Linked DNA regions of Homo sapiens: region 1 is linked to region 2. Evidence: fine-mapped expression QTL. A gene starts in region 2. The other region holds a variant in brackets. All regions are shown on one strand. Distances are from middle to middle.

What was found. PIP is the estimated chance that this variant, and not a neighbour inherited with it, causes the effect.
Region 1: its variant is fine-mapped to the expression of BRS3 in breast (GTEx, PIP above 0.99).

Annotation. Positions count from the first base shown.
Region 1 is chrX:135,956,145-135,961,537 of GRCh38, reverse strand. MMGT1 (membrane magnesium transporter 1) reads left to right here. Exons shown (of 4, transcript NM_173470.3): 4 at 1-950. Among named protein-coding and RNA genes, the nearest start is that of MMGT1, 15 kb to the left of the region's middle. The variant A/G (reference allele first, on the strand shown) is at 2,703.
Region 2 is chrX:136,485,930-136,491,322 of GRCh38, reverse strand. BRS3 (bombesin receptor subtype 3) reads right to left here and starts at 3,376. Exons shown (of 3, transcript NM_001727.2): 1 at 2,775-3,376; 2 at 839-1,190. The coding sequence starts at 3,208.

The sequences.
Region 1 (5,393 bases), 530 kb after region 2:
GGCAAGAAAGATGATGTATGCACATGGCGAAAAGATCAGATGGTACAGAAAGGTATAAAAACTTGGTCCCTTCCCTCCTACCCTAATACTCCTCTCCAAAAGTAACCAGTTTCAAGTGTCTTGTACTCACAGGAAAACAATTTTTTATTTTTTATCAGCAAATTTGTACTTTAAAAATTTCACATTAATAGAATCAGACTATATATACTCTTCTGTACCTTGCTTTTTTTGCTACCTGTGTTTTATGAGATCTTTCTGTATCAGTATATATAAAAATACCTCATTATTTTTAGCGGCTGTGTGGTATTCTAATGTTTGAATGTGTTACAAATGTTCAAACACTGATAGGCTCTTTAGGTTGTTTCCAATATTAAATCACATTGTGGTGAATATACTTGTACATATAATGAGTTTTTATTCTACAGTGTACCTAGCAATACAATTGCTGGATCAGAGGGTATTTTTTATTTTCAGTTCAGTAGTTACTGCCAAATTGTCCTCTAGAAATCTTTGCCCAGTATGCTTCCACATATAATGTATGAGAATGATTATTTACCAAACCCATGCCAATACTGGGTACTAAACTTTTGAAGTCTGATCATGTGAAAGTGAATAAATGGTATCTTGCGTTTTAATGAAGTTCTAATGCATTTTAATGAAGGTCTGGTACATTTTAATGAAGGAGATGGAACACATTTTCATGTTTATTGATTACTGATATTTCCTGTGAAATGTGTAGTCATGTTCTGTTTTCTATTAGGTGGTATGTGTTTTATTGATTTGTATGAGCTTTTTGTAAGCTAAGAAAATTGGTCCATTGTCATGTTTAATAATATTTTCCTAAGTTTTATTTATGTAGTTAAACTTAGTCTTTACAGCTTCTGAGATTTTGCCTTGCTTAGAAAGGCCACCTTTGCATTTAAGAATAAATTTAATGTATTTTTCCAGTATTTTAAAGGTTTTTTTTTCAACTTTTAAATCTTTGATTCATTTGGAATTTGTCTAGGTAGTAAGAGTGAGGAGAGGATTCAACATTTTTCTCTCCAATAGCAATCTATTCTAACCCCATTTATTAACTTTTTCAACACTGATTGGAAAAACCATCATCCTCATTCATACATCAAATTTCCATATGTCTGGTTAGATATGCTTCTGGGTTCTGTAGTCTGTTGCAAAAAATACGAGTCTTTTAATTATTTTAAATTGTTATATATTTTTGTCTTGGGTATTGCTAGTCCATACCTCATTTTTAGGAATTTTTTCTAGTTACTGCATGTTTATTTTTTTCAGATAAGCTTTCATATCATTTTGTCCAAATCTAAAATTATATTTTCCCTGAAATTTAATTTTGAAAAATTTCAAATCTACAGAAAATGTGAAAGAAAATAGGATGGACACCAGTATACTTTTCATTTAGGTTCACCATTTTTAACATTTTACCACTGTTGCTTTTGCTCTCTCCAGATGTGCTTTTCCTCCCCTCCTGATTCATTCGAGCTAAGTTGCAAACTTCATCATCACACTTCAGGACATCACTTAATATGTCAGCATGCCTTTCCTGCAAGAGGGAGGAGATTCTCCCATTTAACCACAATTCCATTATCACAGGTAAAAAAATGGATCAACCACCCAAAGTTTCATATTCATATTTCCCCATGTATCCCCTAAATAGCTTTTATAGCTGTCCCCACCAAGGTTCACAAATTACATTATTAGTGTGTCTCTGTAGTCTCTTTTCAAGTCTGTCTACCTCTTTTTTAAGCTGGTATTTTCTCTAGACAAACTTTATTTTCTTAGAACTGTTTTAGATTTATGGAGAAAATGGGAAGATAGTATAGAGAGTTCCCACATACTCCATACTCAATTTCCTCTATTAACATGTTAGCATGAGGCATTTGACACAATGAGCCAATGTCAATACATTATTATTAGTAGTAGTAGTATTGGTATTACTGGAATGCAATGGCGTGATCTCGGCCCACTGCAACCTCTGCCTCCCAGGTTCAAGCGATTCTCCTGCCTCAGCCACCCGAGTAGCTGGGAGTACAGGCATGCACCACCACGCCTGGTTAATTTTGTATTTTTAGTAGAGACGGGGTTTCTCTATGTTGGTCAGGTTGGTCTCAAACTCCTGACCTCAGGTGATCCACCTGTCTCGGCTTCCCAAAGTGCTGGGATTACAGGCGTGAGCCAACGTGCCTGGCCTAATACATTATTATTAACTAAAGTCCATACTTTATTCAGATTTCCTTTTTTTTTTTTGAGACAGAGTCTCTCTCTGTCACCCAGGCTGGAGTGCAGTGGCGCGATCTCGGCTCACTGCAAGCTCTGCCTCCCGGGTTCATGCCATCCTCCTGCCTCAGCCTCCCGAGTAGCTGGGACTACAGGTGCCCACCACCATGCCCGGCTAATTTTTTGTATTTTTAGTAGAGACGAGGTTTCACGGTGTTAGCCAGGATGTTCTCGATCTCCTGACCTCGTGATCCGCCCGCCTCGGCCTCTCAAAGGGCTGGGATTATAGGCGTGAGCCACCGCGTCCAGCCCCTTTGGTTTTACCTAGTATCCTTTTTGTGTTCTAGGATTCTATCAAGAGGACCACATTACGTTTAGTCATCATGTCTTGGCTCCTCTTGGCTGTGACAGTTTCTTAGACTTCCCTTGTTTTTGATGATCTTGACAGTTTTCAGGAGTGCTGGTCAGGT[A/G]TTTTGTAGAATCTTCCTCTACTGGGATTTGTTAGATGATTTTTCGGTTATTAAACTGGAGTTGTGTGTGTTTTTGGAGGAAGACCACTAAGGTAAAGTGCTATTCTTATCACATCATATCAAGGACACATTTATACTGCTGATGTTAATCTTGATCACCTGGCTGAGGTAGTGTTTGTCAGGTTTCCCCACTGTAAAGTACTGTTTTTTCCCCTTTCCATACTGTACTTTTTGGAAGGAAGTCACTCTGCACAGCCCACACATAAGGAGTGACATGTTATGCTCCACCTCCTTGAGGACAGAGTATCTACATAACTTATTTGGAATTCTTCTGCATGGGAGATATGCTTCTTCTCCCCCATTTATTCATTTATTTTTATGAGTTTGGACTCATACCTTGCTTTATCCTTTAATACTATATCTTGTTGAAATTGTTCCAGTTTCAGACATTGGTAGCTTTTTCAGTAAACTCCTGTGTCCCTTTGACATATTCCCATCGTTGTCATTGTGAGTTTTCTATTTTTTTTTTTTTATTTGAGTACTTCCTTCCTGGCACTACAAAGATGTTCCGGGCTTGTGTTGTATATTTCCTTCCTCAGTCCTGGAATCAGCCATTTCTCCAAGGAGCATGGTTCCTTTCATTGAAGAATGGTATTACAAACCAAGATCTGGCCACTAGGTTCGCTCATTGCTGCTTGACGTTTCATTGCCTCTAGGCCTTTTCAGCAGACAGATCAAGGAAATATATATGTGCATACTAACCTGTGCATTTATGCCTAAGTGTAAATATGTAACATCTGTATTTCCATTAAATGAAACATGAGTTCATACTGATGTTCAATCCATTACCACATAGATCATTCTAACCTCTTCCCTTTGCTTATCTGTAAACCTCCACTGCAACTGAGAAACCCGACTCCCACCATCGGCTCTCTTCTTGCTTCAACTGTTTAATTCCAGTATACATATAAACTGGCTTCAGAATTGTTAACCCTTTCCCCCACAAGAAACAACTTTATCAGCTAGAGCACAGTGATTATGTAGCTTTGTTGGTTGTTCATTTGTTGCCATTAGTTTCACAGGCTACTCATTTTGAAAGTTACTTAGGTCAGGACCTTTTCCCTCACCTCCTTTGGTGAGATTGTTTCATAAATTTGTGATAAACTTAGATTGTTTTGTAACATTCTACCTTCGATTTTGGTATTCTCCTGACCTCCCAAATGGTTTTTAAAAATGTGTGTACATTAAGGTTCACTTTTTGTTTCTGGAAGTTCAGTGGGTTATGATGGATTCATAATGTTAGGTATCCACAATTGTATTATCACATAGAATAGTTTCACAGCCATAAGAATCCCTGTGCTTCACATATTTATCCTTCCCTCCCCTTCTGCTGAGCCTGTGTTAACCACCGATCTTTTCAGTGTCTCTATAGTTTTGCCTTTTCAAGAATGTCATGTGGTTGGAATCATGCAGTATGTAGTCTTTTTAGACTGGCTTCTTTCACTTAGCAATATGCATTCAGGATTCCTCCATTTCTCTCAGAAGTTTGATAATTCATTTCTTCTTATCTCTGAATAATAGTTTTATTGTATGGATGTTCCCACACTTTGTTTATCCATTCACCTATTGAAGGACATCTTGGTTGCTGCCAGTCTTTGCTGGTTATGAATAAATCTTCCATAAACACTCACATGCAGGTTTTTGTGTGGACATGATTTTTCAAAGTGGTTGGGTGTAAATACCGAGGAGCAGAATTGCTGGGTCATATGATGAGATTATGTTCAGCTTTATAAGAAATTGCCAAGCTGAATGCGGTGGCTCATGCCTATAATCCCAGTACCTTGAAAGGCCAAGACGGGCGATCACTTGAGCCCAGAAGTTCGAGACCACCTGGGCAATATGGTGAAACCCTGTCTCTACACAAAATACAAAAAAATTAGCCAATCATGGTGGTGCATGTCTGTAGTCCCAGCTACTCAGGAGACTGAAGTGGGAGGATTGCTTGAGCCTGGGAGTTCCAGGCTGCAGTGACCCGTGTTCGCACCACTGCACTCCAGCCTGGATGGTAGAGTGAGACCCTGTCTCAAAAAATAAAATAAATAAAAAATAAAAAAATTGCCAAACTGCCATCCAAAGTGGCTGTACCATTTTGCATTCCTATCAGCAATGGACCATTTTGCATTCCTATCAGCAATGGATAAGAGTTCCTGTTGCTCCATGTCTTTGCCAGCAATTGGTATTGTCAGTTTTTGAATTTTAGTTATTAATAGGTGTGTAGTGCTATTTCTTTGTTTTAATTTGCAGTTCTTTAACAACAAATGATGTTAAGCATTGTATGTGCTTATCTGCCATCTGCATTTCTCCTGTGATGAGGTATCTGTTCAGGTCTTTTGCCCATTTTAAAACTGGTTTGTTTGCTTAATTGTTGAGTTGTAAGACTTCTTTGTATATTTTGAATACAAGTCCTTTACACGTGTGGGTTTTGCAAATATTTTCTCCCAGTCAGTGGCTTCTCTTTTCATTCTCATAACAGTGTCTATCACAGATAAATTTTGATTGTAGTAAAGATCAACTTATCAGGTTTCTCTTTCATGGATCATGCTTTTGGTGTTGAATTTAAAAGTTCACTTTCAAACCTAAGCTCATCTAGATATTCTCCTATGTTTCCATTCAAAGGTTTTGTAGGTTTTC
Region 2 (5,393 bases):
ACTGGTTCACATGGGTATTAAATATGCAACTTCAGTCTCATGAGCACCATTGTTAAACTAACTGAATGGACTAGCTCTAAAAAAGGCACAGTTCTCTGCGTACCGATCAAGGGGTAAATGGAATCCTCTCTCCCCCTTTCCCAGAGGTTAGAAAAATATTTTTAATCAAATGGAACTATGTTTTGGCAACATTCCTTTTATTCTGTCCATATTTATGAGAGGGAGGGTACACGTGGCTCTTGCAGTGGTCTTAATCAAGCTTCTGTGAGTCACTGTGTTCTCGTGCTACTTGCATTCCACTCTTTCCCCTCACTCCTCCCCACCTCAGTTTGCTCATCTGTGTGTAAGTGGTTTGCATTGAATAGTGTTACGGATTCTTGCCAGTTCTATATGCTATGTATTTTTATTCTGTTACACTTTCTAAAACAAAAGATGCTTTTCTTCATAGTATCATCTTATGCAGTGTTCCCCACTATTCCATGGGGTAAAAAATTTTGACTACTCTCAAACTTCAATTGTCCCCTCTCTAATAGTAGTAGTCTTACCATTTATTGAAATACTTACTCTGCACCTAAGCATTTCATCTATATCATCTAGTAATCATCTTCATTTTACAGATGAGGAAACCGAGGCTCAGAAAGGTTAGGTAACTTGCTCAAGATTACTCAGCTAGTACGTGATAGAACTGGGATTCAAACCGGAGCCTATGCTCATAACAAAAATACTACACTGCTATTGCATTTATAAACAGGAAGATACACAGTTACTCACTGTGCAAAAGTAGGAACTTCACTTCTAAATTCAAACTAGATTTGCATGAGTACTGATTAATACATACCTGCTTACGGGCATGGCTTTGTTCCTCAGTAGGTATGTTCAGGGTGCTTTTGTAAAGGGTCCTAGCAATCAAGGAATAGTAGACAGAGATAATAGAGAGTGGAATAATGTAGAACACTAAGAAGCACAGCAGAGAATGTATTTCTTGCAAGAGCTTCTTAGAGACAGGATAAGAGGTACATGATTCAAATGTCATATTTTTATTGGGATCTCGAAAAGTGTATACATTTGAAAATATAGCCTCAGGTAGAGCAAATATCATAGACACGATCCAGACGCAGCCAGCTTTTACACAAGTCTTCAGGATGGCATTGGAGGGCTGTCGCTCAAGTGGCTTCACAACTGCCTTGTATCTAGAAACACATAATCAGAGGCAAAGGTCCAAATAAATGTCAAAGTTACCAAATTTTAGGGTGAGAAGTGACCTTAGTGGTCATCCAGTTCTACCCTCCGTGCATATGTGTATAACCAAGTCAACATTAACCAACTAGAATTGGCTATGGTTTTAAATGCACATAATACATCCCAATATTTTTATTTATGCTAATCTCCTTTTCCATTATTCACTCCTATGAGATATTCCAGATTTGCAATTTTATAATTTTATGTATAGACTCTCTATTTAGGACAAATAAACATTTATCAGCATGACTTTATGTGTGACTGAGAGTAATTCACCACCTGTGTATTACCTTAAGTGTAATACACTTAAGGTACCTAAAAGACTTCTTTTGTATAAGTGACTGATGTTAAACTGAATTAATTTTCCTTTCTTCATGAGTGAACAGTTATCAACCTTCCTAGAAGAGAATTCCAAGGGTTTATGTGGTAAAGAGGAGAGGATTAATTTCTTCCCCGTTTGTAAGTGTTAATTCGTTGCCCAACCTGATCAGTGGACAGATTTAGGGCGAGGCAAAGTTGCAATCAGAAGTCCTGTGCCGGTACAGAGATACCTCCTCATTCAAACAAATCCACCTTAAAATCTACAGTCATTAAGCCAGTCTGCCCTCAAATAGAATATAAGACCAGTCAAAGCAAAAATCATCAAAAGACACAGGGAAAGGTTTTCCTCCTCTCAGATTCTAGAATCTGAAGAAGTTATTCCTTCTGGTACTGCCAAACATCGATTACTTACAGGAATCTTGCAGGCTTTGTAAAGCATCATTTTTAACATTTGGAGCCTCAAATTTTTTCATGTTTTTACAGTTATTCTACAATAGGAACACAGAAAAACAGAGTACTTGGACTGAAAATATCCTAACACAGAATCTGAACACCCTGACTGCAAGAGGATCTCACACGCTCTCTCCACAGAGCTCTAAAAGTCAACCAAGATTAATTTATTTCTCTGGAAATGATAATGTCACTGAATGCCTACAGAGAAAACAAGTAGAATTACGTGATGACATTACACTAAGTTACCAGGGAGTTGAAAACCTCACCGTTTTTCTGCCATTAGCTAATTTGATGAATTTCAAATAAATTAGATGCCTGTGTCTTTTTACCACTCTTCCAATATACAGTTATACATATGTGGTCAATTTCACACCTATCCTGGTTTTCATGTTGACTATATTGCACCACTAGGCTGCACTAATGTATAAAGCATGAATTTTTTTCCTTTACACCTGGAACAATTTGCTTTACTTAATAAACTGGAGAAAAATAAAAACCCCGTTCAGTATACTTCCGAGCAAACAATAAGAATAAATTATCCATAAAGCATGCAATTTCAACTTCTCCTCCGTGCTAACACAGAAATTTTAACATTCTTACACTAACTTTTATTTTAAATGCCACCAGATTTTCCAATCTCACATCCACGTTACAGAGTGTGAGAAAAGCAGAATAGTAGCCAGTAAATGCTAAGTACAAGCTTTCCTTTCTTTTTGCCCAATTTCACATCCTGGCAAATATAATGGAGAAAAGAAACTCACCTGTCAGCGCTGAGAATTGTTAATGTGAACACTGACACACCAACAGAAGTGAGCCGGATGAAAGAGAGCACCTTACAACCAATTCTTCCGAACAGCCATCCTTCTGCAAGGTAGTGAGTTGCATCCACTGGCACACAAGTTAGCAGAAGTAAAAGATCTCCAAAAGCCAGGCTGGTGATGAAAATATTTGGAACTGTTTGCATGGATTTGGTCTTGAAAAAGACTTTGATGAGAATAGCATTTCCAAGGATGCCCACTGAAATGATCACAGCATAAGTAATATAGATGGCACACAATGCTTCTATTCCTGGAGAGTTGTCCCCGCTCCATCCTTTATTTGTGTTATCGTTAGAAACCACAGAGCTTGATGATTCTGTGTCATTTGTGATTGAAATTAAAGTCTGATTAGGTGAGTGAGGCTGCCTTTGAGCCATTTCTTCTGAAGACTGTGTCTTTAATATTTCTTCTTCTCAGTTCAAATGCAGTTGATTGTCACGTCCAATGCCTACGTCTAGTAACGAGATGGTATTAGGAGAACAGAACAGAACAGAATGGGAAGAAAATCCAAGACATCCAGATACTCCTTTGCTTCAGTTCTGTGTGTCTCCCAGCATGCTTGGCTAAATGCTTACCCATCTGGCACTGAAGAGTAGGAGGTGGAGTTTTATTGGCGTGTCCTGTCATAAGGAGAGGGAGGGGGCTGGGGAAATGCTCTGCAGTTGCTTATTCTTCCCTGTTGGGGAATCTTGGGACCAACTAGACCCTATTAAATCGTCTTATTTATTATTAGAATCACCCTGTTTTCATATCTACCCAGGATGGTCTATATAGGTTTTGTCAATTTTTTTTAAGAAAAAAACCATTTATCCCCCTGCAATCACATGGTAGTCTAGTGCATTTTGTTTTACATGATAAATAAGTGTAGGTGTCCCCTGAAGCACAACCTTGAACCCACTCCTCAAAATTTAATATCAGAGAGATGGTGAAGCAACAGATCATTTACACTTCGACAGGGTTTATGTCACCTCCAAGGAGTGATCATTCAGGTCACTTGGGCTTAATACCTAGCTCTGTCACGTGGTAAACCCCAACTTTGCAGTTATCCAGGCTGTGCTGTACACTATCAAAACAACCTTTTTAATTTTTTTTTTTTTTTTGAGATGGAGTCTCACTCTGTCACCCAGGCTGGAGTGCAGTGGCTCGATCTTGGCTCACTGCAACCTCCACCTCCTGGGTTCAAGCAATTCTCCTGCCTCAGTCTCCCGAGTAGCTGGGATTACAGGCGCCCGCCACCATGCCTGGCTAATTTTTGTATTTTTAGTAGAGACAGGGTTTCACCATGTTGGCCAGGCTGGTCTTGAACTCCTGACCTCAGGCAATCCGCCTGCCTCAGCCTCCCAAAGTGCTGGGATTACAGGCATGAGCCACCACACCCAGCCAAAACAACCTTTTAAGAGATGAAAAATCCAGGCACAGCACCAGTTGCTTTGTCTCTAAATGTCCTAATAAAACCACTTTTTACTGTTTGACTGTCTGTTTTAATGCCATGTTTTCTTTTAAGGGGCTGTTTAGGATTTTTCTCTCTAGAAATGGTTAAAGGGAACCTAACCTGCCTTATTCCAAAACAAAACAATACAGAACATCACTGCTCAAGCTCCTGACACAAAAGAACTTTTAAGAATGAAAATCATCATTTGCAGATGAAGAAATGAAATAGGTGACTCCAGGGATGATGGGCATGTAGATGATGTTTACATCAACTGAAAGAAGTACACATTTAAGGCAACCACCTCAGTACCAGCCAGAGAAGCTACTTTTTACAGAAAACATAACCATGTGCTTTATATGTATGTGTTTGTGGTGGGGGCACTGTTTGGGAGCAGGAAGCTAGCAGTTGGAGTGTAGTTACTAATTGAAGCTGCTAAGAAATATTCTCTGAAATTATCAAATGCAATGCATAATCTCTCAGCTAGAAACCATGTAGTGAGGTGTTCATAAATATAACCATATTAGAAAGTAGTCTGGGGAGCGAAGTGAAAAAGAGCAAAGTATTTGGCTAGCTAATGAACAGGGGGAACAACAAAGGTTGTTCTTTATACTTAGTAGGGGCAATCAGTTCTTCAGAGAAAGTGAAGTGGATGAATTGAATCAATTACCTCCTTAATTTCATGAAGGGTGGAAGACAGATGTGGTTTAAGTCCCCCAAACCACACCTATCCCCCACCCTTTATAAGTTATTGCCACAGCTTGAATCACTCAGCTAAATAACTGCCTTTGATGGGAATGGGGGTGCGGGGGAGTGTTTGCATAAACCCAAGTTCCTAAGCTTTCAGATATATACACTCTAGTAATTTCATACACTGGGCTGGTTCTTTAAGATTGTCTCTACAGAAAAGGGCTCCTTAAAGGGTTCACATCTTGTTCTCAGCAAACTAATGATAAAATCTCCCTGGGACTCCTGTGTATCATTTACCAAGGAGCAAACCATGTCTTCCAATTCACACCACAGCCGATCTCCACATGGCACTGTTTTGTAAGTTCTGTAATGCTTGCATGTGATTTCTGAGATTATCTGAATTCCCAGATCTCACTCATGCTTTCAGCAGGCTGCAGCCACTG